6 separate regions of the Homo sapiens genome follow, and all the other regions are reported to be linked to region 5. Evidence: microRNA targets listed by miRTarBase, many of them from high-throughput screens and not tested one by one. Region 5 holds a microRNA gene; each other region holds the end of a gene's coding sequence.

Region 1 (4,092 bases), not on the chromosome of region 5:
GTCTCTCCAGGGATAAGAGTATCAAGGTCTACAGGGGCCTGATCCCAGCATTTGCTTATCAAGTTGTGAAGTGACCATATGCAATGATGAAAAGGGACTTGTCCCTGTGGCCCCCCTCTTAGGGATAAAGGGCAGGAGAACCACTGTTGGTATTCTTTTGTTCCTGCGATGATGCTTTTTTCTTTCTTTCTTGGAGAGTTAATTGGTTTTGTGCCTGCCTTACAGATTTCCTTGTTCCCTTGCTGAGCTCTGTCTTAACTGTGGCTTGGATCTGTTGCTTGGTGACGGCCTTCTACTGGTGCCTGCGGAAGCGGCGGAAGCCGGGCAGCCACACACACTCAGCCTCTGAGGACAACACCACCAACAACGTGCGGGAGCAGCTGAACCAGATCAAAAACCCCATTGAGAAACATGGGGCCAACACGGTCCCCATCAAGGATTATGAGAACAAGAACTCCAAAATGTCTAAAATAAGGACACACAATTCTGAAGTAGAAGAGGACGACATGGACAAACACCAGCAGAAAGCCCGGTTTGCCAAGCAGCCGGCGTACACGCTGGTAGACAGAGAAGAGAAGCCCCCCAACGGCACGCCGACAAAACACCCAAACTGGACAAACAAACAGGACAACAGAGACTTGGAAAGTGCCCAGAGCTTAAACCGAATGGAGTACATCGTATAGCAGACCGCGGGCACTGCCGCCGCTAGGTAGAGTCTGAGGGCTTGTAGTTCTTTAAACTGTCGTGTCATACTCGAGTCTGAGGCCGTTGCTGACTTAGAATCCCTGTGTTAATTTAAGTTTTGACAAGCTGGCTTACACTGGCAATGGTAGTTTCTGTGGTTGGCTGGGAAATCGAGTGCCGCATCTCACAGCTATGCAAAAAGCTAGTCAACAGTACCCTGGTTGTGTGTCCCCTTGCAGCCGACACGGTCTCGGATCAGGCTCCCAGGAGCCTGCCCAGCCCCCTGGTCTTTGAGCTCCCACTTCTGCCAGATGTCCTAATGGTGATGCAGTCTTAGATCATAGTTTTATTTATATTTATTGACTCTTGAGTTGTTTTTGTATATTGGTTTTATGATGACGTACAAGTAGTTCTGTATTTGAAAGTGCCTTTGCAGCTCAGAACCACAGCAACGATCACAAATGACTTTATTATTTATTTTTTTTAATTGTATTTTTGTTGTTGGGGGAGGGGAGACTTTGATGTCAGCAGTTGCTGGTAAAATGAAGAATTTAAAGAAAAAAATGTCAAAAGTAGAACTTTGTATAGTTATGTAAATAATTCTTTTTTATTAATCACTGTGTATATTTGATTTATTAACTTAATAATCAAGAGCCTTAAAACATCATTCCTTTTTATTTATATGTATGTGTTTAGAATTGAAGGTTTTTGATAGCATTGTAAGCGTATGGCTTTATTTTTTTGAACTCTTCTCATTACTTGTTGCCTATAAGCCAAAATTAAGGTGTTTGAAAATAGTTTATTTTAAAACAATAGGATGGGCTTCTGTGCCCAGAATACTGATGGAATTTTTTTGTACGACGTCAGATGTTTAAAACACCTTCTATAGCATCACTTAAAACACGTTTTAAGGACTGACTGAGGCAGTTTGAGGATTAGTTTAGAACAGGTTTTTTTGTTTGTTTGTTTTTTGTTTTTCTGCTTTAGACTTGAAAAGAGACAGGCAGGTGATCTGCTGCAGAGCAGTAAGGGAACAAGTTGAGCTATGACTTAACATAGCCAAAATGTGAGTGGTTGAATATGATTAAAAATATCAAATTAATTGTGTGAACTTGGAAGCACACCAATCTTACTTTGTAAATTCTGATTTCTTTTCACCATTCGTACATAATACTGAACCACTTGTAGATTTGATTTTTTTTTTTAATCTACTGCATTTAGGGAGTATTCTAATAAGCTAGTTGAATACTTGAACCATAAAATGTCCAGTAAGATCACTGTTTAGATTTGCCATAGAGTACACTGCCTGCCTTAAGTGAGGAAATCAAAGTGCTATTACGAAGTTCAAGATCAAAAAGGCTTATAAAACAGAGTAATCTTGTTGGTTCACCATTGAGACCGTGAAGATACTTTGTATTGTCCTATTAGTGTTATATGAACATACAAATGCATCTTTGATGTGTTGTTCTTGGCAATAAATTTTGAAAAGTAATATTTATTAAATTTTTTTGTATGAAAACATGGAACAGTGTGGCCTCTTCTGAGCTTACGTAGTTCTACCGGCTTTGCCATGTGCTTCTGCCACCCTGCTGAGTCTGTTCTGGTAATCGGGGTATAATAGGCTCTGCCTGACAGAGGGATGGAGGAAGAACTGAAAGGCTTTTCAACCACAAAACTCATCTGGAGTTCTCAAAGACCTGGGGCTGCTGTGAAGCTGGAACTGCGGGAGCCCCATCTAGGGGAGCCTTGATTCCCTTGTTATTCAACAGCAAGTGTGAATACTGCTTGAATAAACACCACTGGATTAATGGCCTGTAGTGTCGAGGTGAATTGTTTGTGAGCAATCAGGGGAACTGGCCACAGCACTGAAAGGGTTTTAAAGGGTTTGGAATTGGTGTTGGGAAACGAGCAGGGAGATTTAATGTCTGCCTCTTTTTTTTCCCTGGCTACTTAGATTCATATTAATGTCCTGTTGTAAGGGTGTGGTCTGAAATGACTCTTGTGCACATTTACCCATGGGGTGGTTTCCTCACGGCACAGGAGGTGGTAGTTGCAAGCTTCTGGTGTTCGGGCTCATCACTCATCACCTTGTTCCCAGGGAATGAGTGTTCTGGCCTCACCATGCAGCCTTGGAGTGCTGGTGTTCTGGTCTTCTGTGAGGTTCCAGAGTTGGGCTGTCCCCACCTGTCACGGGCAGGAGAACTCTGGTTCTCTCACTTGTGGCTGGTGGAGGCCCTGCCCCCGCATCGCGTGGTGGGGTGTGGGAGAAGCTTTGCCTCTGGCACCTCTGCGGAAGGAATAAGCTGTGGTAACAAGCACATGGACAGCTTCCAGCAGCCGTGCAGAGTCACCAGGACTCTGCTTCTGGCTAGGAAAGCCAAAGCTCACCCTTCTCAGAGCCATCCCCCAGCACTTCAACATTCAGGCCTGTCCACCCACGTCCGGTTTTCATACAACTGGCACAGCAGACTTTGAATGGAGGAAAAGCTGATGGGGATGTTTTTCTTTGTTCTCGGGGAAACATTTTTTCTTCTAGGCTTGGAGTTGTGCTAAGGAACATCTTAAGAATGAAAGATGAGCTTTAAGTGTCCTGGGATCCTTGTGCATGAGCAGAGGCCATCGAGGGATTTGGGATTGTGACAACCCTAAGAGGGCCAACACTGTTTTGGCTCATTGGGGAGGTGGCCTGAAGGACCCGGACAGCGAAGAGTTGAGGTTTCCATGACATCTCCCTGCCCTAGCGTAGCTCCGCTTTCTCACCAATGTCTGCCAGTAGACAGCTGGGTTTCCACAAGGTGGGGTCAAAGGGAGGGAGAAATCTAGATCCTACTAGCCAGGAGACAGTCATTTCGCAGCAGTGGAGTCAAACACTATCCTGAAGCAAAACCTTGTTCTGGTGGTTTGTAAACTTGGATTCTGCAGGACCCCAGAATTCCTTGGGTAGCTGCCAGATGCTTTTGTGCCAAGAAAAAAAAAAAAAAAAGTTGAATGAGTCTCTGCAATTCTTTATTCCAGGAGGGAAGGGATCTTGGGATTCATGGGTGTTGTCTTAACTCACCTTCTGTCTGGGACACCCCTGGTATTGGGAGGGCATAGATCAGCCTCCTCTGGATGTGGCTCAGTGCCAGGACTTTAATTGTGAAGGGTGGATTTTCCCCTTCCTTCAGGAAGAAGGAAGCAGGCAATGGTGCTCTGGTTATCCTGGGGTTAGGAAAGTTGAGAGGAAGGGACTCAGTGCCTTTACCATTCATTCCCCAGGAACGCCCTGGGCTCTCTTTAAAGGGGCCCTGGAAGAAAAAATTTTCAGTCCAGAAACTTGGCTAACTAGAACTCTAGCATTAGAATATCCCATGAAACTCCAGGAAAGAACACTTAAAGCTGGTGTTTTTTTAGGATGGGAAGCTCTGT
Region 2 (4,092 bases), not on the chromosome of region 5:
GGCACAGCAGTTTTAATACAACCACCAATCTTCACAAAATAATTTTAATACTTTGTGCCTGGGCTAGCAGCATCTTGCACTGTGACATTCCTATACAGACATAAGCATTTTATCCAAGTACAAATGTTAAAAGCAGAGTAACTTAAGCAATTGTGTATACAAAGGTATACAGACACTGTAGGTTATTTTTCTTCTTGAATCATTTTTGCTGCATAGTAAATTGCAATTACATGTCAGTATAATGTTACTGATCTATAGAATACACTTTGAACTGTGAGGTATGGCAGCTCCCTATGAGAGAGAGCTAACATGTAAACCTGAATATTTTGAGTGATTTTTGTTTTAGCTGCCACAGATGGGAAAGACAAAAAAAAAAAAAAAAATTCCAGCATTCAAAGACCCTAGAGACTTACTTTTCTAATCAATTAAAAAAAAAGGTCTTTCAGTACTTCTCATCTATTTTCTAGCATTCCCTTATCGGAGCACTGTTGAACAAAGAAAGAAAGAAAATACTGAGGTGAAGCTATGTTTGTTATGGGATTATGGATTAAATCAGTTATTTAAAAAAAAAAAAATCCGCCAGGTAACTGCTCATTTACTTTACATCAAGTTGAGATCTTGATACATATATATATATATCTCAACTTTATAATTCAAGATTGCAGTTAAATATTTCTAATTCACTTGAATTACCATATTAATAAGACAATTAGAAACCTTATATTTTCTTAATACAGACATGCTTAACATTTTCTGACATTACTTCTAAACTCAGATGAAGCATAAACTCTCCCCAAAACTGCTCTAAAAGTTAAGTGGTTGAGTTGGTAGCAAAAGCTATCATGGTTTAACATTTCCACCACAGAGTAGATACAAGTAAAGGTCACTGCAGTTTAAACATCTAACAGGTAAGAAATTAACATGAACCAACTAACTGAAATTAGAATACTGCCATTCCATGTTTGAATATTTTCAATACTCAAGTTTCATATTTTCAAAATGGACAGTAATACAGTTTCCCTATGTTTTGATACAATTTCACTATAAATTATGGGCCCAGATTACACTTTTAATGTTGGAATTGGGTGGTCACTCATACATTATTTAAATACTCTAGAAGATAAATCATGATCAGTTAAATTTATCATAGTTAACTATCACAAAACATCAGTGGTAATAAAAGAATCACAGAAATGGAATCAAATAGAATAAAGAATAGGAAGAGCTACCAGAACTACTTAAACATTAGGTGGACAGACATGCAAGAAAAAACAAACCTGTAATGTTCTTATATGAAATAATAAACTTCATGGTTTGTCTACATTAATATTGTACTCAGCCAGGCGCAGTGGCTCACGCCTGTAATCCCAGCACTTTGGGAGGCCGAGGTGGGTGGATCACTTGAGGTCAGGAGTTTGAGACCAGCCTGGCCAACATGGTGAAACCCCATCTCTACTAAAACTACAAAAATTAGCCAGGCATGGTGGCATGTGCCTCTAACCCCAGCTACTTGGGAGGCTGAGGCAGGAAAATCACTTGAACCCAGGAGGTGGAGGTTGCAGTGAGCCAAGATTGTGCCACTGTACTCCAGCCTGGGTGACATTAGAGACTCTGTCTCAAAAAAAAAAAAAAATCTATCTATCTATATATATATATATACACACAGAGTACTCAAGATGATGACAGTCCCTTTTCCCAGTGTTTGTGAGAGACTGTAATATACAGTACTGGGCAGGCACTTCAGTGACAACATAAAAATTACAGTGGATAGAAAATGTGGAAAATTACCAGCTACAAATTATCAATAACAAAATCTGTTCTTTTGGCCAGACTACTAGAGAGGATATATGTATATTTATGAAACAAGTTTTTAAAACCTAAACTTACTATTATGAAGATTCTTTTAAGCAGAGTTTCTGCTAAATGAAGCATCATAGATTATTATTACACTGTAAGAGATCTTTGCTGACCTGCCCAATAGTGATCTATATACAGGAAAGCTGTGTTATCTGGAACTTTTATCAACTGGAATTTTAGAAAACCCAATGCGAATCTTGACTCCACTAGACCACTGTACATCAAAAGACCTAATCACAAAGCAGAATACTGGACGACAACGAGATTAACAATATGCTGTTTTCACAGTGGTAAGATAAGAGAAGGGAAGGGGAGGGAAATCAGAAGAGAAATATCACCTGGGTCAATAGGAATTAACTCTTAATTAACAATTTTAATTAATCTCCACTCTCCCACTATGCTGGGTAAGAAAGCTTTTACTGTATTATCACATCATAGAGAGGAAAGCAAAGCAAGTAACTTGGTGTAATAGGTTACTTTGCATAGTACCTCTTGGTACCAAGGGAACATACAGAAATCATTCCCATTAGTAAAGCACCTCAAGAGAGGATTGAGAAAAGTTAGATACAAAGGAGTTTTGTTTGTGCTACCCTAAAGTCATCAACTATAAAAAGTTAAAAACACTCCTCTCTTCCCTTACATACTTAAAATAGCAAAAATGTTTTCTTAGAACTTTTATACACACAAACTAAAACATAGCCAAAAATCCATAAAGTGACTTTACTAAAGCAAATTATGGGGCAGATCTGGACTAACTGAATGTCAAGAATGGATTAAAATGCTAATTTAAAATACACTAGTCTCCCACAAATCACCTTCCCCAAAGAAAAGCTTCTGTTTGAGCCGGAACAATCTCACAGAATCATTAAGACAACATAAAAAGAAAGAGTAAACATTCTATATTCCAAATAATTTACTAATATTTCTTCCAGCCTCGTACTTTCAGTTTAAACTAATTTATGGTTTAAAAAGAAAGGAAATTACACAAAAATGTTAAGAACTTTTCAGTGTTCTACATACTAATTTAGAGGCCATGAGGATTTAATTATTTTTTTTAAATGATGCAAGGCACTTTTCTTTTTTGGGGCTTCATTTAGAAAAAAATAATGCTACATTGGTTTATTAGATTCTATTTAGAATCATTTTGGACAAAGGAAAAAAGGGCTGGACAACTCTGAAAAGAACAAATACAACGTTTGGCTTTTACTGCCAAAAAATGCAAAAAGGAAAGTCACTCGAAAATCTAACACTATCCTTGTGTTTAAGCACTTGGTACTATAAATCAAAACGTTTTCCTTTTATCATGGAAACTGTAGTTTTTAAAATATAGAAAAATTAGGAAAGTAATAAGAAAGGAAGCAATAATTAGATCAAGTTAAAGTAAGGACAGCTAATTAGGATCATGATTTAAAGATTAATAATGGAAGAAGTATAAAAAATAAAATGGTAATTAAGCTATTAAGTTATACTAAAAAAGAAATGTGGCAGATTCCTGCATTTTGTTAATGTTTCTGTAAGAGGCTCCATCATAAAATTGAACTGTAAAATTATGTTAAAAATGTAATATATAGAACAGAAAAATGAATTTTTAGCAAACCTTAGCAAATTTTGTTATAAATTACCCAAACTTTATAAACAATCCCCCCATACTTGCATTTTGTTTAAAGTAATAACTTTATATCATACAAATAAATTTCAAGTATGAAAAGTGCATTATTGCAATAATACCTCTTTGCAAGTCCAAAATTCTTGGTTTATAATAAAACTTGTAAAGCATGTGTGTGTGCGCGCGCATGTGTTTTTAAAAAAAGGAGTAAAACCATCAGTGTCATCTATTGCAGAAGTCCAACATCTTAAAATGTTGCTCAACAAGTTGCAGAGAAGTATGTCTGGAAGCAACATGTAATTGAAAAAAAAACTACTTATGTTTTTACCATTTTACATTATAATTTTCTCTTGTATTTTCTCCTTCCCAAATAGAAATTCACACTCTATGATGTTGCTCTTCAAGTCAGCCATTCTGTGCAGTCGCCACTTGCATGGTTCCAAAATCATCCTCTTCTTCATGTGTTCTCTTCAAACTGCCTAAAAGTTATTGCATGAAGATTAAAAGGGCACTAAAATAAATTCATGTTAAAAGGTTACAGCAAGTAAAATTTTGTTATTAAGTGATCATGTATACACTATGAAAATTCCACAACTGATATAGCAAAATTTAGTAAATTCCTTTGTGAT
Region 3 (4,085 bases), not on the chromosome of region 5:
TTCTACATACTACCAATGAACAACTAAAAATAAAGTTTAAATTACAATTCCATTCAATAGCATCAAACAGAATATGTACGAATAAATTAACAAAAAAGTGTACACTGTACACTTGTACAGTGAAAATTACAAAACTGAGAGAAACTGAAGATCTAAATAAATGGAGAGACATTCCATGCTCACAGATCAGAATTCTATGTGCAATTTTCCACAGATGCAATGCAATCCCTATCAAAATCTCAGCATGGGTTTTTTGCAGAATGTACAAGCTGATCTTAAAACTTATATGGAAAAGCAAAAGATCCAGAGTAGCCAAAACAATCTTTGAAAAGTAGAACAAAGCTAGACAGCTTACGCTTCCTTATTTCAAAACTTAGAACAAAGCTATAGTAATCAAGACACTGTGATAGTGTATAAGGACACACATATAGAGGTCAATGGAACACAACTAAGTACAGAAATAAATCCATACATTTATAGTCAGCTGATTTTTGACAAAGGCATGAAGGCAAGTCAGGGGGAAGGGGCAGTCTTTTTTTAAAATGGTGCTGGTGGCCAGGCACAGTGGCTCACCTTTGTAATCCCAGAATTTGGGAGGCCAAGGTGGGCAGATCACCTGAGGTCAGGAGTTCAAGACCAACCTGGCCAACATAGTGAAAGCCTGTCTCTACTAAAAATAACAAAAATTAGGAGGCATGGTGGTACACACCTACAGTTCCAGCTACTCGGGATGCTGAGGCATGAGAATCACTTGAACCTGGGAGGCAGAGGTTGCAGTGAGCCGAGACTGCACCACTGCACTCCAGTCTGGCAACAGAGTGAGACTCTGTCTCAAAAAAAAAAAAAAAAGTGCTGGGACAATTGGACATCTACATGTAAAAAAAAGTTTTGCCCTTAACTCACACAATTCCTAAAAATTAACTCAAAATGAATCATAGACATAAACACAAGAGCTAAAACTAGAAAATTTTTAGAAGAAAACATAAGAGCACATCTTGTGACTTTGTGTTAGGCAATAAATTCTTAGATACAACACGGAAAGCATGATCCATAGAAGAGAAAACTGATAAACTGTACGACATCAAAATGAAAACTTTGATGCTTCAAAAGATACCATTAATAAAATAAGACAAGCCACAGATTGGGATATTTGCAAATCATGTATCTAATAAAGGATCTGTATCCAACATACGTAAAGAACTCCTAAAACTCAATAAGAAAACAATCTAATTTTAAAATGGGCAGAGATCTAAACTGACTAATGGCCAATAAGCACATGAAAAGATGTTCATAGTCATTTGAGAAATGAAAATTACAACTACAGTGAGATACAGCATCACTCCTACTGGAAAAGCTATAATCAAAATGACTGACAGTAACAAGTGTTGCTACGGTAATTAAGATAGTATATACTGGAGAAAAAGACAAATGGAGAAGAACTGACATCCCAGAAACAGACCTTCAGATCTTCACTTGATGGAAACTTGACATATACCAAAAGGGGTATTACAGGTTAGTGGGGGAAAGAGCAGTCTTTTTAATTAAATAATGCTTGGGAGATTGGTTATCCATGTGGGAAAAAGGGAACAACAACAACAAAAATAAGAATGATATGAGGCCTCTATCTGATACCATTTTAAAAAAGTCTATTAGTATTATTTTTTCTTTTCTCCCTAGAGTTACAGTTATACTCTTTTTTCATTCATTCTACCAGTTCCTCCCACATGTAAAGTACAAAAGGTGGAGTACAGTTTCCTTCTCCTTGACTTTGGGCTTGGCCATATGACTTACTTTAGCCAATGGGTTATAAGTAAATGTGCTGTAAACAGGGCTTTGCCCTCTTGAGTTTCTGCCAACACCATGAGAAGAACATGCCCTAGCTAGCCCACTGGTCCCAGGAGAGTTAGATAAGTATGGGCAGAACTGACCCAGCAGATCTGCCATATGAAACAGTGCCAACCCAACCAAGGCCAGATGAGATCAGCCAACTCCCAGCCAATCTATATATGCATAAAAAATAAGCACTTTGTGTTATTCACTACTGAGAACCTTGTAGTTGTTTTTGCTAAGCACCATTACTGTACCAACTGTTAATACAATTCCCAATGGATTAAAATATAAACGTATACAGCAAAGCTCCAAAACTTAAAAAAAAAGTTAAATTACTTTACAGCCTCATGACAGGGAATAATTTCTTAAATGAGACACAAAACACAAAAGTAGGCATAAACAAAAAGATTCCCAAAATAAGTAATTCTACTCACTGAGATGCCGCAAAAAAAAAAAACAAAAAACGAAAAGACCGTCCACAAAATGGGAGAAGGCCTGCCACACATACCTCACAAAGAATTATATAAGGAATATATAGAAATCAATGTATAAAGGACAATCAGACCAATAAAAACATGGGCAAAGACATTAACAGGCATTTCACCAAAGATGAAACTCAAAAACCAGTAAGCATAAGAAAAGATGCTGCACTTCATGCAAATTAAGTTACGAGATTCTATTTTTACATCCACTAAATTGGTTGAAATTAAAGTATTGACAATATAAAGTACTGGCAAGTGTAGAATGACAGTTCTTCTACACAGTTTGTAGGAGTATAAACTGGTATAACTACTTGAGAAAAAAACTGATATTATATTAAATTTTATGATGATATGATTCTACTCCTTGGCACATACTGTGGATAACTTGTGCACATTCATGCCAAGAAGTATGTATATGGATATTTACAAGAGTTAGTATTTTTAAAAATTGAAAATAACCTAAATATTCATTAATAGTAGAATGACCAAATAACTAATATAAACATAAAGTGAAATGTTATATAGGAGTAAAAATGAATGACAGCTGCATGCATCTACACGAATGAATAATGTTGGGTGAAAATAGCCACGTCATCAATTAATACAGAGAGTATGATACAGTCTGATAAAATCCAAACATAAGCAAAACTAAATATATTGTTTTGTGAATTATACGTATTTGGTAAATCTACAAAGAAACACAAGAGGAGAATAAAAATATACCTGATAGACAAGCCCACACAAGGAAGCAGGCTGATGTAGATCCATATAGGTATGTAAATATATCAAATATTTTATAATTCTTTTTTAGTGGCGGAGGAAGAAGAAAAATACTTCTATTTGAGAACCCTATTGAGGTTGCATGCCAACTTCTGGAGATGTTCAGACAAGAAAAAAAGAAATGTGGTAAATTCTAATTTTACCTTTTTATGTCTATTTTATTTACATGACTTCTTTTCAGTATCCAAAACCTAATATAAAAAAAAAATCACATAATCATTTTTATGCATTCATGTGTAATTCAGGTATACTGTCATATTCATAACTTTCAAATGATTCCAATCAAATTCATCCTAATAATCATCTAATATTATTTACTACTACTACAGGAACTGAAAAACTTATTTCATATATATCACTTTTCCATATCTATTTCACACAAATAAACAACTAAATATTTGGTACAACTTCTAATTCCACATTAACCATTCATATTTTACAACCTAAAAATATCTATAAACAAGCACCTTTGACTTTGTAATATTTACATATGCTCAAGGGAACATTTTGCCAGAAGATCGTATGGTTGGCTTCAAAAGAATCTTTTAAATTTTCATGTATACTTAGATTAAATTTTTAAGAGACTAGCTCCAACTAACATGAGAAATGAAAGAATACAAATGACTGTAACTTTTCAATAACCTTTTCTCACAGACTGAAAGAATATCTGAAGAAAACATTTTGAAATTACTACTTAACTATTATTTGATGTAATTCTAAAATGTTTATAAACCCGTAACTTGTAACTTTCCTTCCAAGAATCTTTATAACAGGAGTACTATTTTTCTTATTTGATTTGCTTTGTTTAGCTTAGCTTAGCTATTAAAATGGCTAATTATACTGAAGATTTTACATCTTTCCAACTTAAATCAGCAATGAATATACATCTTCCTTTCAGCTACAAGGAAACATATACAAATGAAAAATATTTAAACTGAATTCTTAAGTTATTAGTCCTAATATATCCCATATGCTAACCTAAGAGGCACTCTC
Region 4 (4,092 bases), not on the chromosome of region 5:
AAAAAAACAAAAAAACAAAAAACACCAAACGAAACAAACAAGATTACAGCTAGACAGGAGGAATAAATTCTAGTGTCCTATACCACTGAAGGGTAAAACTAGAGTTAATAAAATATGGTTTCAAGTAACTAGAAGGAGGATATTGAATGTTCCCAACACAAAGAAATGATACATGTTTGAAAGGATGGGTATGCTAATTATTCCAACATGATCACTATACCTTGTATGTATCGAAACATCACTATTTTCCCCACAAATATGTACAATTATTATATGTCAATTTTAAATAAATAGTAATTGGATCTTCAGCAGGGCCCATGGGCACCCTAAATAAAGACTGTATTTCCCAGCCTGTCATGTGACCATGGATTTATTTCTGGCCAATAGAATGTAAGCAACTTCTCAGTCATGTCTTTAAGAGGAGACTGTTCATCCCTTCCCTTTTCTGGCTTTCCATTGGCTGGTAGGGGACCCCTGGGCTGTGGGGATGCGAGGAATACCCCATGAATGGCACAGTGAAAAACTAAGAACCTGCAGCCCTCTTGGCCTGTAGAATAGAACCTTACTACCAGCTGGGACTTTAACCAATAGAGAAATCAGCTTCCCTCTGGTCTAAGTCACTGATATCTAGTTCCAATTCAACCAAACCTAATAATCTCACTAATGCTCCCCAGTGTCCAGCCATGCTCCCTGTTCTTCCTAACATCCACCTTCAGGCCTTCAAGCTGCTACAATTGAAATAATTTTTCTTCTCGTCTTCAGTGAAATGATGTTCTTGTTCTGGTTCTTTAGTGAATTGCTGTCCACTTCTGCTAACGATGAGTGTCAAATAAAGAATATGCCTTATATTAGAGTAACTTTTTGTCAGACTCTAGGTTGGGGCAGCTATATTCTTTCAAACTTTAAGAATTGGCCAGGCACGGTGGCTCACACCTATAATCTCAGAACTTTCAGAGGCTGAGGCAGGCGGATCACTTGAGGCCAGGAGTTCGAACCCAGCCTGACCAGCCTGGCCAACATGGCGAAACCCCATCTCTACTAAAAATACAAAAATTAGCCAGACATGGTGACGCATCTCTGTAATCCCAGCTACTCAGAAGGCTGAGGTGGGAGGACCACCTGAGCCCAGGAGGCAGAGGTTGTAGTGAGCCAAGATTGCCACTGCACTCCAGCCTGGGTGACAGAGAGAGGCTCTGTCTCAAAAAAAAAAAAAAAAAAAAAAAAAATTGAGTTGTCAGACCATTAAGAACTTTATAATTTTTTATTATTTTACTATTTAAAAATTTTAATCTTGAAATTGGTTAACCTTAGGTAAACACTAACCATATTTTTTTATATACATTATATACACGAGAAATAAATAGTCTTCCAAATAGCATTTTTTAAAAAGCATCATTATATACAATTAAGGCTTCAAGCCAGGTGTATAAATATACAACTCACTGAGAATTCAATTTGCAAAGCTTCCATTAGTAAAAACAGAAGTCAGAAGTGACCAGGATGTACAGCCAATAATATGGGTTGAGCAACCCTAATCCAAAAATCCAAAATCCGAAATGCTCCAAAATCCAAAACTTTTTGAGCACCAACAAGACAAAAAATGGGAAAACCCCTCACATAAGTTACCACAAACCATGCTTCATGTACACAACTATTTAAAATATCGTATAAAATTACCCTCAGGCTATGTGGATAAGGTGTAACTGACACATCAATGAATTTTGTGTTTAGGCTCGGGTCCTATTCCCAAAATATCTCATTATGTATATGCAAACATTCCAAAATCTGAAAATAATCTAAAATTTGAAACACTTCTGGTTCCAAGCATTTTGGATAAGGGATACTCAACCTGTACAAGCTTCGCTTTGGCTAGAAAGCAATCACAGAAACAAGAGAAGCACACAATTGGCTTGAGAACATATCTTGAAATAAGACTCAACTGGTTATGTCTTCAGAAGTTTAACAGTGATACAACTTTGGCACGATACAGATTAAAACAATGTCCTTAGAAAACCTAAGTACAAAGAAAATCATTCTTCCTCTCCTGCTTGGTGTCACACTTCCTCCCGAATCTCAGCCATAAAAAGTCCAACCGTTGGCACAGATGTTCTCCTGGTTATACATTAATAAAAGGGCTTAGGATTTTATGGATGGCTCTATATAAAAAAAAAAGTCCTTGTTTGTCTCACGTCTGGGGCATATTGGTGGGAACTGGCTGCAAAAGTCTTCATGGAGTTTCAGAGATAGACTTTGCCTCCAGGAAATCTGAGTCCTCTCCCTGGCTGCACCACTAACTAGTATATAAGTCTAGGCATGTGGCTGAACCTCACTAAGCCTCAGTTTTGTAAAATAGGGATAATAATAGTTGCCCTTCTCCCCCTACTCTAATTAGGCAATGCATACACAAATCTTTTGAAAAGTGTAAGTGTCTCAGATATTGTGTGTATTAATTCAAATCAAGATCTAGAATTGGTGGCTTTTCCAAGAAGTTCAACAAGAAAAGGCACTGGTATTAAAGTAAAATATTTCAAAGAGGAAAAAAAGCACTGTATTAAATCTTAGAACCAGCTCTGTCTGGCAGGTGCCGGTTTCTGTGTACACAGATGTGTATTACATATGTCATAACTTCTATCTCTCTAAACAGAAGAGATTTGCTCCAAAGCAGTTATATCTGGCAACCGGCCATCATTCTGGCCCCAGCATGAATGATACTCTGCTTGCTATTCTGCTAGTGATCAAACACGTCACTCATAGGGGAGGTGGCACATAATAACTAAGAAGGTGGCACATAATAACTAAGAAGAAATAGAAACCACTTAAAGCCTCAGGGTCCCTAATGCTTATATCCTATAGCCTCCCCCAGGCCCCAGGTGCCTTTCCCCATGCATATACACATACACCATCCAAACAGAAAGAGGGTCTAGAAATCCCAACTCCACTGGGTTCCAAATGGAGAGGCTCAGTAATATGTCCATTACCACATTCTAATTAATTTTAAGTGTTCAATAGACATTTGCTCAATTAAAAAATGAACAGAAAAATAGGAAAGCCAATGATGTGTGCTTCAGAGAGTGAGCTGGGGAGCAGGACGGAATGGCTAAGACGTAAGCAGTATGGTCAGTGCAACCCATGAGAACCCCAACAGCTAGGGCCCGAGCAAGATACCAGGCCTGCCATCCTGACATGAGTCAGCTCCTGTCGGAAGGACTTCTCACTGAGGCTCAAAGCAGGCTGAGCAGCTGACAGCCTTCTACACAGGGCCTCTTCGGAGCCAGCGTTCCTCGTCAGGCAGAGTACAGGCTCGCCCAGCAACTGAGAAACCAATCCAGTGTGCACGAGAGGCCCCAGGCACCCAGCTGCTTACACACAAATCTGGACTTGGTGCTCTGGAGGTGTGGACAGAGGTTTGGAGTTAGAGCTATTCAAGAGAGGCAGCAAGAGCTATAGCAGCGCAGTCCCCTCCCGCGAGGAGTCCCAGCCATCACAGGAGACCAGTTGTTCCCAGTGCTCCAGGGTCAAGGCTGAGAAGAATCCTTCCATTGGGTGGGTCCTCAGCAGTAACTTTCCTCCATGGGCTTGGATAGCAGGAAGTCTTGCTGCCTTGCTGGCAAGACTTGCCCGGGCACCCTCAGGGAAGCTCCACAGTGGGACTGAAAGAAACCGTGTGAGAGTGGCATTTGTTAGCTCACACACCAGCAAACGCGCAAACCTGTATTCAGGGTGTGCTCTTTTGACCTTAAGGCCAAGCTTTCTGACACCCCTATGGGACTATTTTACATGTATTCCTTTCAGAATAAATGGACAAGGTCCCGAGTGCTGCCTTCTCTCCCTAACCTGACAAGCCATAGATGCACTTTGAGAAACACCACACTGCAGCACCCTCTGGACCCTGAGTTGAGTACATCACAGTTCTTGCATTTACATATTATCCACCCACAACATACACACACACACACACACACACACACACACACACAATCATGGACACACAAGTGTGGGGAGAACTATCAAAGTGTCCTCTTTGCCTTGATCTAGAAATACAAGAGAGACACTGTATTGGCAGAAAGGGGGCAAGACTGAGAGTTAGGAGAC
Region 5 (4,092 bases):
TCTCCCCTCCCCCCGCCCCGCCCCTGCCCCGCCCCTCCGAGAACCGCCAAGTTGGTACCAGCCCCTGCCGGCTGCCCTCGGTTTCCTAGGTAGGTGTTGGGATCCGCCACGCGCGTGGGGGCCGTCGGAAGCCCACCCCTGCGGTGATCAGGTTTTAGGACCAGTCCAAATCTTGGATATGGGAGAGTCAAAACGTCAACTTTGGGTTGTGTCCTGTCGGAGTCAGTGGGGGAGTAGTTTAGCTTCTTATATCCTCAGTGGGCTGCCACATCCTCTCCCCTCCCCCCAGAAAGATAGCTAAATAAACTTTAAATTCCTCAGCCCCATTGCCCCAATCCCCACTTCCAAACCAGATTGCCAGGGACAGCACCTGCTAGGTGGAAGTTCTGAGAACGTTGCGCTGGAGAATTCACGCCTGAAAGCCTAGCCCTTGGGAGCTAGAGGCCTGAACTGGGCGGATACGTGCCCATGTGTACAGTTTCTGTGATTTTAAAATTCTGAATCCTTTAAATCTTAGGAAACAAGCTGGATTTAAAGTGTAAGTGCATTTACTAATCACTCCCACTAAAAGTTGCATAGACTCCAACAGTTGTAAATGATTACTTAAAAGAAGGGATACATCTTAATGAGTGAACAGAGTCTCTTCATGGAAAAAAGAAGTATGAAAAATTTTGTTAATGTATTTCTTATAAAAGTATTAACAAGTCTGTGTGTATGAGTAGCTTTCCCGGGAGATTTTTGTCATGGCAGGAACAACTTAACCACTTCATTGATAGAAAAGTTAAGATTACTGTGGCAGGAACTGAGATGGACATCATAAAGTCAATTTAGCAAAGGAAATGGACACATAGCAATAACCACAATTTATGTCTTTATGGCACTTTATTCTTTCGAAATATTACTAACAATATTACTTTCAAAATATTACTAACAATATAGTCTCAAGAAGTTAATAATCACATGTTCATATAATAACATACATCAGTCAGCTAAGAAAAAAATCATATTCCCCCTTATATCTAAAATTTTGGTTAAGAGCCTGAAGGAATATTGAAAAAAAAACAAAACAAAACCCCACATACATACACATTACATACATTGTAAACTTAGTAGCTGAAATGTTGATTTTTTTCTTTTGGCTGAGCAATTAATAGGCAATGGATGAAATCAGCATTTTCCAACACCCCTCTTCCCCACGCACATTGATGATGCACAGGCAGCTCATTTGGACGAATTCCCAAATCTTTTTACCTGGCCGTGTGGTTAGTGATTGGTACTATTAGCAATCAGCTAACTACACTGCCTAGTAACTAGACTCATAGAAAAAATTGCAGTCTCAAGTTGGTACCCCAACACGTTGTGACAGGCAGGCAATTCATTGGTTGAGTTGGAGCTCAACTGAGTTGCTAGCTTGGTGAATACTCTACTAGACGATGGCAAATAGACACAGTGAATCACAGCATACAGTATTAACCGTTACATGGATGGAGGGGCTTCACCTCCAGGGATTTTGCTTTCCTGGCATGAGACTGTTTCATCTTCTGTGACTCCTAGAGAGAGCTAACAGTTTAACTGTATCTGGAGAAACCGCGGGTTTCCTCGCACTTGCAGCGGGCGCTCGCGGGGCAGGCTGCGCAGGACCCACGCCGACGCCGCGCTTCTCAGGCATCTTCTCTCGAAGGCTGCGGGCTGCCCGAGCCGGCGTCTTCTTCCCGGCCGGGCGGCGGTGATGCTGTGCCTTGTTTTGATGGCAGTGGAGTTAGTGATTGTAACCACCACAGTACAATCAGCTAATGACACTGCCTACAAACCGAGCACCGGGCACCCGCGGCTGCAGCTCCCGGACGGTCCGCAGCGCCGACGCGGGGTCGGGGCCCGCCTCGGACCCCATTTCACCGGGGGACGCCCTACCATGGCTGGGCGCAAGCGGCCCCCGAGGACACCCCCGGGCCCAGCGGGACCCCCGCCGGCCTCGCAGCGCACAACACGCGTAGCTGGGCCAGCGGGCGGCGCTGCCGGGGAGGACCCGCGCCCTCCCAGGCCGGGAGCCGCGCCCCGACCCCCATGACCCCCAGGAGTGCCAGGCCTCCCCTTCCCGCAGCCTCCCGCTCCTCTCAGGGCCCTCCCGCTCAGGTTCCCCTCGCTTTTCCTTTCCCCTTCGCCTCCTCGGCCCGGGCTCCCACTTCCTTCACGCCAGGCTTCAGTTCCCAGCCCCAAACCCTAGAGCTGGCTCTCTCGACCCCGTGCGCCCCGCCGCTCTGAGCGGCCGAGTGACTGTGGCGGGGGCGACCAACCGTCCTTGGAACCCCGCGGGCCGAGGGGCGGGGCGGGCGCGAGACGGGGCGGGTGGGGGAGGGGATGGGGGGGGGGAGGAGGCTGAGAGAAAGCGCTGTGGGCGGTCCCTGAAGGGCCTCCAAGGGAGACGCCTAGAAGATGGAGGCCCAGATTCTTGAGACGTTTCTCTTTCTGATCTAGCAGGAGGGACAAAGAGCTCCTCCACTCCCTCATTCCCCAAGAAGGCCCCCAGCCTACCCAGTTTCCGTGACCATTCCGCCCTGGGAAAGCGGCTTCCCAGGTACCTCAAATTATAGGTTTGAATTTTCCAAATGGAGGTGGGCTTGGGTAGCCTCTGACATATGGGAGGATGGCTTGGAGAGTCTCATCTGCACCTCTGTGCTCTGTTGGGGACTTGGCCTTATACTCTTAGAGGGCCATGCAGTGATGTGAAGCCTGGGCCTTCTAGTCAAATAGTGAGCCAGGCAGCTTGTTAGTTACATCAAATCGTGGTCCTCTTGAGATCAAGGCCATACCATTCAAGACAGTATATATATAATAAATTACTAAACTAGGGACTATTTAGAATAGTAGAAACTATTTGTATCAGAAATAGAAGGGAGGTCCTCAATGAGAGCTGTAATAGGTCAAAGAAGGTTCCCAGAGGAGGTGAGACTTGAGTAGATCCTTGATGCACGAGTACATTTGGATATTCAGGGTTAGGGCTGTGGATGCCAGAAAAACAGTATCTTGTGACAGTTGGGCAAAAGGGACAGTTACAGAGGACTTCTGGGAGATCTCTGCTAATAACTTTCCTTCCCCTCCTTTGCCTTTAATGAATTAATCAGGAGAGGATAAGGAATGTTCTCTTTATCCTCACCTTGTGAAATTCAGCTGGAAGCAGCCTCCCCTAGAAATATGGTCTTCATGCATCCAGTATAGAGCACCCATTGCTGACACCAAAGGCTTAGTTCTAAATTAGTTTCTGCAAAAGAAAACTTCCCACCTATAGATTGATTCCCTAAAACCAGCAAATGGTCTCATAGATGCCACAAGTAACATGAACAGGGGCAGGTCATCTGGATCATTCAATACAAACTACAAACTCACACTATTAAAACAACTAAAGAACTGCCCAAGGATGTTTGAATAAGTTATAGCATTTTCTTTGCATATGAAAGACAGCACTTTTTTTCCAAATGCATACTTTGTTCTGTACACCCCATAGTGAAGGGAAAGAAACCAAAATACAAAATATGTAGCACAGAAAATGTTAATTGTAAAAATTAACTCGTAGAATTAAATTGTGAAAGACAAGCCATCTACAATAACTGTATTTTGTATTCATCTTATCTTTGTGAGGGGCACGGTGTTTTAGCACACATTACATAAATGACTCACATTCACCTAAATATACATACATGAAACTAGGAGCAAAATAGTCTTCATTCCATTAACAATATGCAGACTTAGAGAAATCTTGGTTAGGAGATAGTTATAAAAATGATTCTCTTCTACCAAATTGTTAGTCACTTTTACCCAATACTATATCGAACACTTCTTCCCAACTGATGTTTTATGATTATTAGTTGCATCTTAAATATCTTACCTGAGCTGGATTGCTGCCATCCAAGGCAATGGTTGGGTCAGATGCCTTGAAAAGTAGGTTTCTACAGACTTTTCTTCAAAAGTAATAAAAAATAAAACTCATATGTAAAAGTCATGAAGATGCATTGCCTACTGAAATAACTTTTTAAAATGAGTTTATTTTCTATGTAGTACAACTAAAAATTTAAATAACGACAAAAAATATGTGTG
Region 6 (4,092 bases), not on the chromosome of region 5:
GTCCAGCCCAGTCTTGAACTCCTGGGTTCAAGGGGTCCTCCTGCCCTAGTCTCCCAAAGTTCCAGGATTACAAGGCATGAGTCACTGCACCCAGCCTCATTTTTTAATTAAGTTAAAATTTCTGAGCATTCTTTAATAATAAAATTATTTTATTTATCTCCAGGAATCCATCAACAGCATCAAGTCCAGACTAAGCAAAAGTGGGCACATACAAACTCTGCTTAGAGCATTTGAAGCTCGTGATCGAAACATACAAGAAAGCAACTTTGATAGAGTCAATTTCTGGTCTATGGTTAATTTAGTGGTCATGGTGGTGGTGTCAGCCATTCAAGTTTATATGCTGAAGAGTCTGTTTGAAGATAAGAGGAAAAGTAGAACTTAAAACTCCAAACTAGAGTACGTAACATTGAAAAATGAGGCATAAAAATGCAATAAACTGTTACAGTCAAGACCATTAATGGTCTTCTCCAAAATATTTTGAGATATAAAAGTAGGAAACAGGTATAATTTTAATGTGAAAATTAAGTCTTCACTTTCTGTGCAAGTAATCCTGCTGATCCAGTTGTACTTAAGTGTGTAACAGGAATATTTTGCAGAATATAGGTTTAACTGAATGAAGCCATATTAATAACTGCATTTTCCTAACTTTGAAAAATTTTGCAAATGTCTTAGGTGATTTAAATAAATGAGTATTGGGCCTAATTGCAACACCAGTCTGTTTTTAACAGGTTCTATTACCCAGAACTTTTTTGTAAATGCGGCAGTTACAAATTAACTGTGGAAGTTTTCAGTTTTAAGTTATAAATCACCTGAGAATTACCTAATGATGGATTGAATAAATCTTTAGACTACAAAAGCCCAACTTTTCTCTATTTACATATGCATCTCTCCTATAATGTAAATAGAATAATAGCTTTGAAATACAATTAGGTTTTTGAGATTTTTATAACCAAATACATTTCAGTGTAACATATTAGCAGAAAGCATTAGTCTTTGTACTTTGCTTACATTCCCAAAAGCTGACATTTTCACGATTCTTAAAAACACAAAGTTACACTTACTAAAATTAGGACATGTTTTCTCTTTGAAATGAAGAATATAGTTTAAAAGCTTCCTCCTCCATAGGGACACATTTTCTCTAACCCTTAACTAAAGTGTAGGATTTTAAAATTAAATGTGAGGTAAAATAAGTTTATTTTTAATAGTATCTGTCAAGTTAATATCTGTCAACAGTTAATAATCATGTTATGTTAATTTTAACATGATTGCTGACTTGGATAATTCATTATTACCAGCAGTTATGAAGGAAATATTGCTAAAATGATCTGGGCCTACCATAAATAAATATCTCCTTTTCTGAGCTCTAAGAATTATCAGAAACAGGAAAGAATTTAGAAAAACTTGAGAAAACCTAATCCAAAATAAAATTCACTTAAGTAGAACTATAAATAAATATCTAGAATCTGACTGGCTCATCATGACATCCTACTCATAACATAAATCAAAGGAGATGATTAATTTCCAGTTAGCTGGAAGAAACTTTGGCTGTAGGTTTTTATTTTCTACAAGAATTCTGGTTTGAATTATTTTTGTAAGCAGGTACATTTTATAAAATGTAAGCCCTACTGTAAGGTTTAGCACTGGGTGTACATATTTATTAAAAATTTTTATTATAACAACTTTTATTAAAATGGCCTTTCTGAACACTTTATTTATTGATGTTGAAGTAAGGATTAGAAACATAGACTCCCAAGTTTTAAACACCTAAATGTGAATAACCCATATATACAACAAAGTTTCTGCCATCTAGCTTTTTGAAGTCTATGGGGGTCTTACTCAAGTACTAGTAATTTAACTTCATCATGAATGAACTATAATTTTTAAGTTATGCCCATTTATAACGTTGTTTATGACTACATTGTGAGTTAGAAACAAACTTAAAATTTGGGGTATAGAACCCCTCAACAGGTTAGTAATGCTGGAATTCTTGATGAGCAATAATGATAACCAGAGAGTGATTTCATTTACACTCATAGTAGTATAAAAAGAGATACATTTCCCTCTTAGGCCCCTGGGAGAAGAGCAGCTTAGATTTCCCTACTGGCAAGGTTTTTAAAAATGAGGTAAATGCCGTATATGATCAATTACCTTAATTGGCCAAGAAAATGCTTCAGGTGTCTAGGGGTATCCTCTGCAACACTTGCAGAACAAAGGTCAATAAGATCCTTGCCTATGAATACCCCTCCCTTTTGCGCTGTTAAATTTGCAATGAGAAGCAAATTTACAGTACCATAACTAATAAAGCAGGGTACAGATATAAACTACTGCATCTTTTCTATAAAACTGTGATTAAGAATTCTACCTCTCCTGTATGGCTGTTACTGTACTGTACTCTCTGACTCCTTACCTAACAATGAATTTGTTACATAATCTTCTACATGTATGATTTGTGCCACTGATCTTAAACCTATGATTCAGTAACTTCTTACCATATAAAAACGATAATTGCTTTATTTGGAAAAGAATTTAGGAATACTAAGGACAATTATTTTTATAGACAAAGTAAAAAGACAGATATTTAAGAGGCATAACCAAAAAAGCAAAACTTGTAAACAGAGTAAAAATCTTTAATATTTCTAAAGACATACTGTTTATCTGCTTCATATGCTTTTTTTAATTTCACTATTCCATTTCTAAATTAAAGTTATGCTAAATTGAGTAAGCTGTTTATCACTTAACAGCTCATTTTGTCTTTTTCAATATACAAATTTTAAAAATACTACAATATTTAACTAAGGCCCAACCGATTTCCATAATGTAGCAGTTACCGTGTTCACCTCACACTAAGGCCTAGAGTTTGCTCTGATATGCATTTGGATGATTAATGTTATGCTGTTCTTTCATGTGAATGTCAAGACATGGAGGGTGTTTGTAATTTTATGGTAAAATTAATCCTTCTTACACATAATGGTGTCTTAAAATTGACAAAAAATGAGCACTTACAATTGTATGTCTCCTCAAATGAAAATTCTTTATCTGAAATTTTAAAAGACATTGATTCCACATGTAAGGATTTTTCATCTGAAGTACAATAATGCACAATCAGTGTTGCTCAAACTGCTTTATACTTATAAACAGCCATCTTAAATAAGCAACGTATTGTGAGTACTGATATGTATATAATAAAAATTATCAAAGAAAATTAACTGCCAGTCATTTGTAAATGCTGTCTACTCCTGAAAGCCTTCCTTCATCTCTATTTAGTTAATAATGTGCTCTCTCCTCCTGTTTTGAAACCCCATAGCTCTCTACACCTCTTATTGTACATCACTCTACTTTGCATTGGAGTTCTGTTTCTATATGTACTTATTCACCTGTTGCCTAAACATGCACTGTTCCTAAAAGGTACAGTTTTTGCTCAAAATATATGAAAGGAAAGATAATCAGTTCTTAAAGTTTGGTATGCTAAATAAGCACCCAGGGAACTTACCTGCTCCACCTCACCCCAGAAATTGATTATTCAGGTCTGGAATATGGCTCAGGATTCTTAATTTTCAACCAACACAATATAGAATCCTGTCAGTTATCCTTGGATCATTTGCTAAGTGATCTTGCAAAATCAAAACTCCTTTGAGACTATTTCATTTTCAGAAATATTTTAAAACTTGTTCAGAAACATCTTAAAACTTGTTAGCATATAGGAAAAGTACAATGCTTGGTGTAGGTAGGTTATTATTTGGTCATTTCCCTCAAACCATCCAGACAAGCCACTCTTCTACCACAAGCTGGTAGAAATCCTTAGGCACCTTTCTGCTTCTGCACTGCTATCACTTTCAGGTGTCTAAGGCTTCTGGAAGGCTGTTGTCATAACCTGGAGCCATACACCTAATGTACGTCTGGGGAAAGGACACCAATTAAAGAATCTAGAGCTAGGATGATGTTACATAAGACAGGGCACAATGGAGATGGACTCTGGATCCCTGCATCTGAAAGAAAAAGGCAAGAAAATGCAGGGCAGGGAAAATCCTGAAGGTCTTCACTGACCATGAATTAAAATCCTAATTGACAGTTTTACAAACAAAAACCCTCGTT

What was found. The annotated mature microRNA hsa-miR-34b-3p reads CAAUCACUAACUCCACUGCCAU and lies in region 5 at 1,748-1,769, opposite strand. An mRNA with a match to its seed (bases 2 to 7 or 8) in the 3' UTR can be bound and repressed. Matches are read on the target gene's strand: a 7mer-m8 pairs with bases 2 to 8, a 7mer-A1 pairs with bases 2 to 7 and ends in A, and an 8mer does both.
Region 1: miRTarBase lists JAG1 as a target of hsa-miR-34b-3p. The part of its 3' UTR that is shown has no 7-base or 8-base seed match.
Region 2: the mRNA of STYX is a reported target of hsa-miR-34b-3p. Seed matches in the 3' UTR shown: 7mer-A1 at 2,089-2,095 and 7mer-m8 at 1,531-1,537.
Region 3: the mRNA of ZC3H8 is a reported target of hsa-miR-34b-3p. The part of its 3' UTR that is shown has no 7-base or 8-base seed match.
Region 4: the mRNA of LIPG is a reported target of hsa-miR-34b-3p. The part of its 3' UTR that is shown has no 7-base or 8-base seed match.
Region 6: miRTarBase lists TMED5 as a target of hsa-miR-34b-3p. Seed matches in the 3' UTR shown: 7mer-m8 at 2,014-2,020 and 7mer-A1 at 2,346-2,352.

Annotation. Positions count from the first base shown.
Region 1 is chr20:10,636,089-10,640,180 of GRCh38, reverse strand. It overlaps JAG1 (jagged canonical Notch ligand 1), which reads left to right. Exons shown (of 26, transcript NM_000214.3): 26 at 226-2,497. The coding sequence ends at 683. Among named protein-coding and RNA genes, the nearest start is that of MIR6870, 12 kb to the left of the region's middle. RefSeq lists enhancers at 1,858-2,654, 2,655-3,451.
Region 2 is chr14:52,770,883-52,774,974 of GRCh38, reverse strand. STYX (serine/threonine/tyrosine interacting protein) reads right to left here. Exons shown (of 11, transcript NM_145251.4): 11 at 1-3,942. The coding sequence ends at 3,869. Among named protein-coding and RNA genes, the nearest start is that of GNPNAT1, 19 kb to the left of the region's middle.
Region 3 is chr2:112,227,668-112,231,752 of GRCh38, forward strand. It overlaps ZC3H8 (zinc finger CCCH-type containing 8), which reads right to left. Exons shown (of 9, transcript NM_032494.3): 8 at 3,236-3,283. The coding sequence ends at 3,251. It also overlaps a transcript of FBLN7 not described here. Among named protein-coding and RNA genes, the nearest start is that of ZC3H8, 25 kb to the right of the region's middle.
Region 4 is chr18:49,590,059-49,594,150 of GRCh38, reverse strand. LIPG (lipase G, endothelial type) reads right to left here. Exons shown (of 10, transcript NM_006033.4): 10 at 1-3,650. The coding sequence ends at 3,629. Among named protein-coding and RNA genes, the nearest start is that of LIPG, 30 kb to the right of the region's middle.
Region 5 is chr11:111,510,664-111,514,755 of GRCh38, reverse strand. MIR34B (microRNA 34b) reads right to left here and starts at 1,818; the gene lies at 1,735-1,818. BTG4 (BTG anti-proliferation factor 4) reads left to right here and starts at 2,370. Exons shown (of 5, transcript NM_001367975.1): 1 at 2,370-2,575. It overlaps MIR34BHG (MIR34B and MIR34C host gene), which reads right to left. Exons shown (of 2, transcript NR_147706.1): 1 at 3,884-4,092; 2 at 868-1,738. It overlaps MIR34C (microRNA 34c), which reads right to left and starts at 1,317; the gene lies at 1,241-1,317. RefSeq lists an enhancer at 3,515-4,092.
Region 6 is chr1:93,150,960-93,155,051 of GRCh38, reverse strand. TMED5 (transmembrane p24 trafficking protein 5) reads left to right here. Exons shown (of 4, transcript NM_016040.5): 4 at 164-4,092. The coding sequence ends at 382. Among named protein-coding and RNA genes, the nearest start is that of TMED5, 27 kb to the left of the region's middle.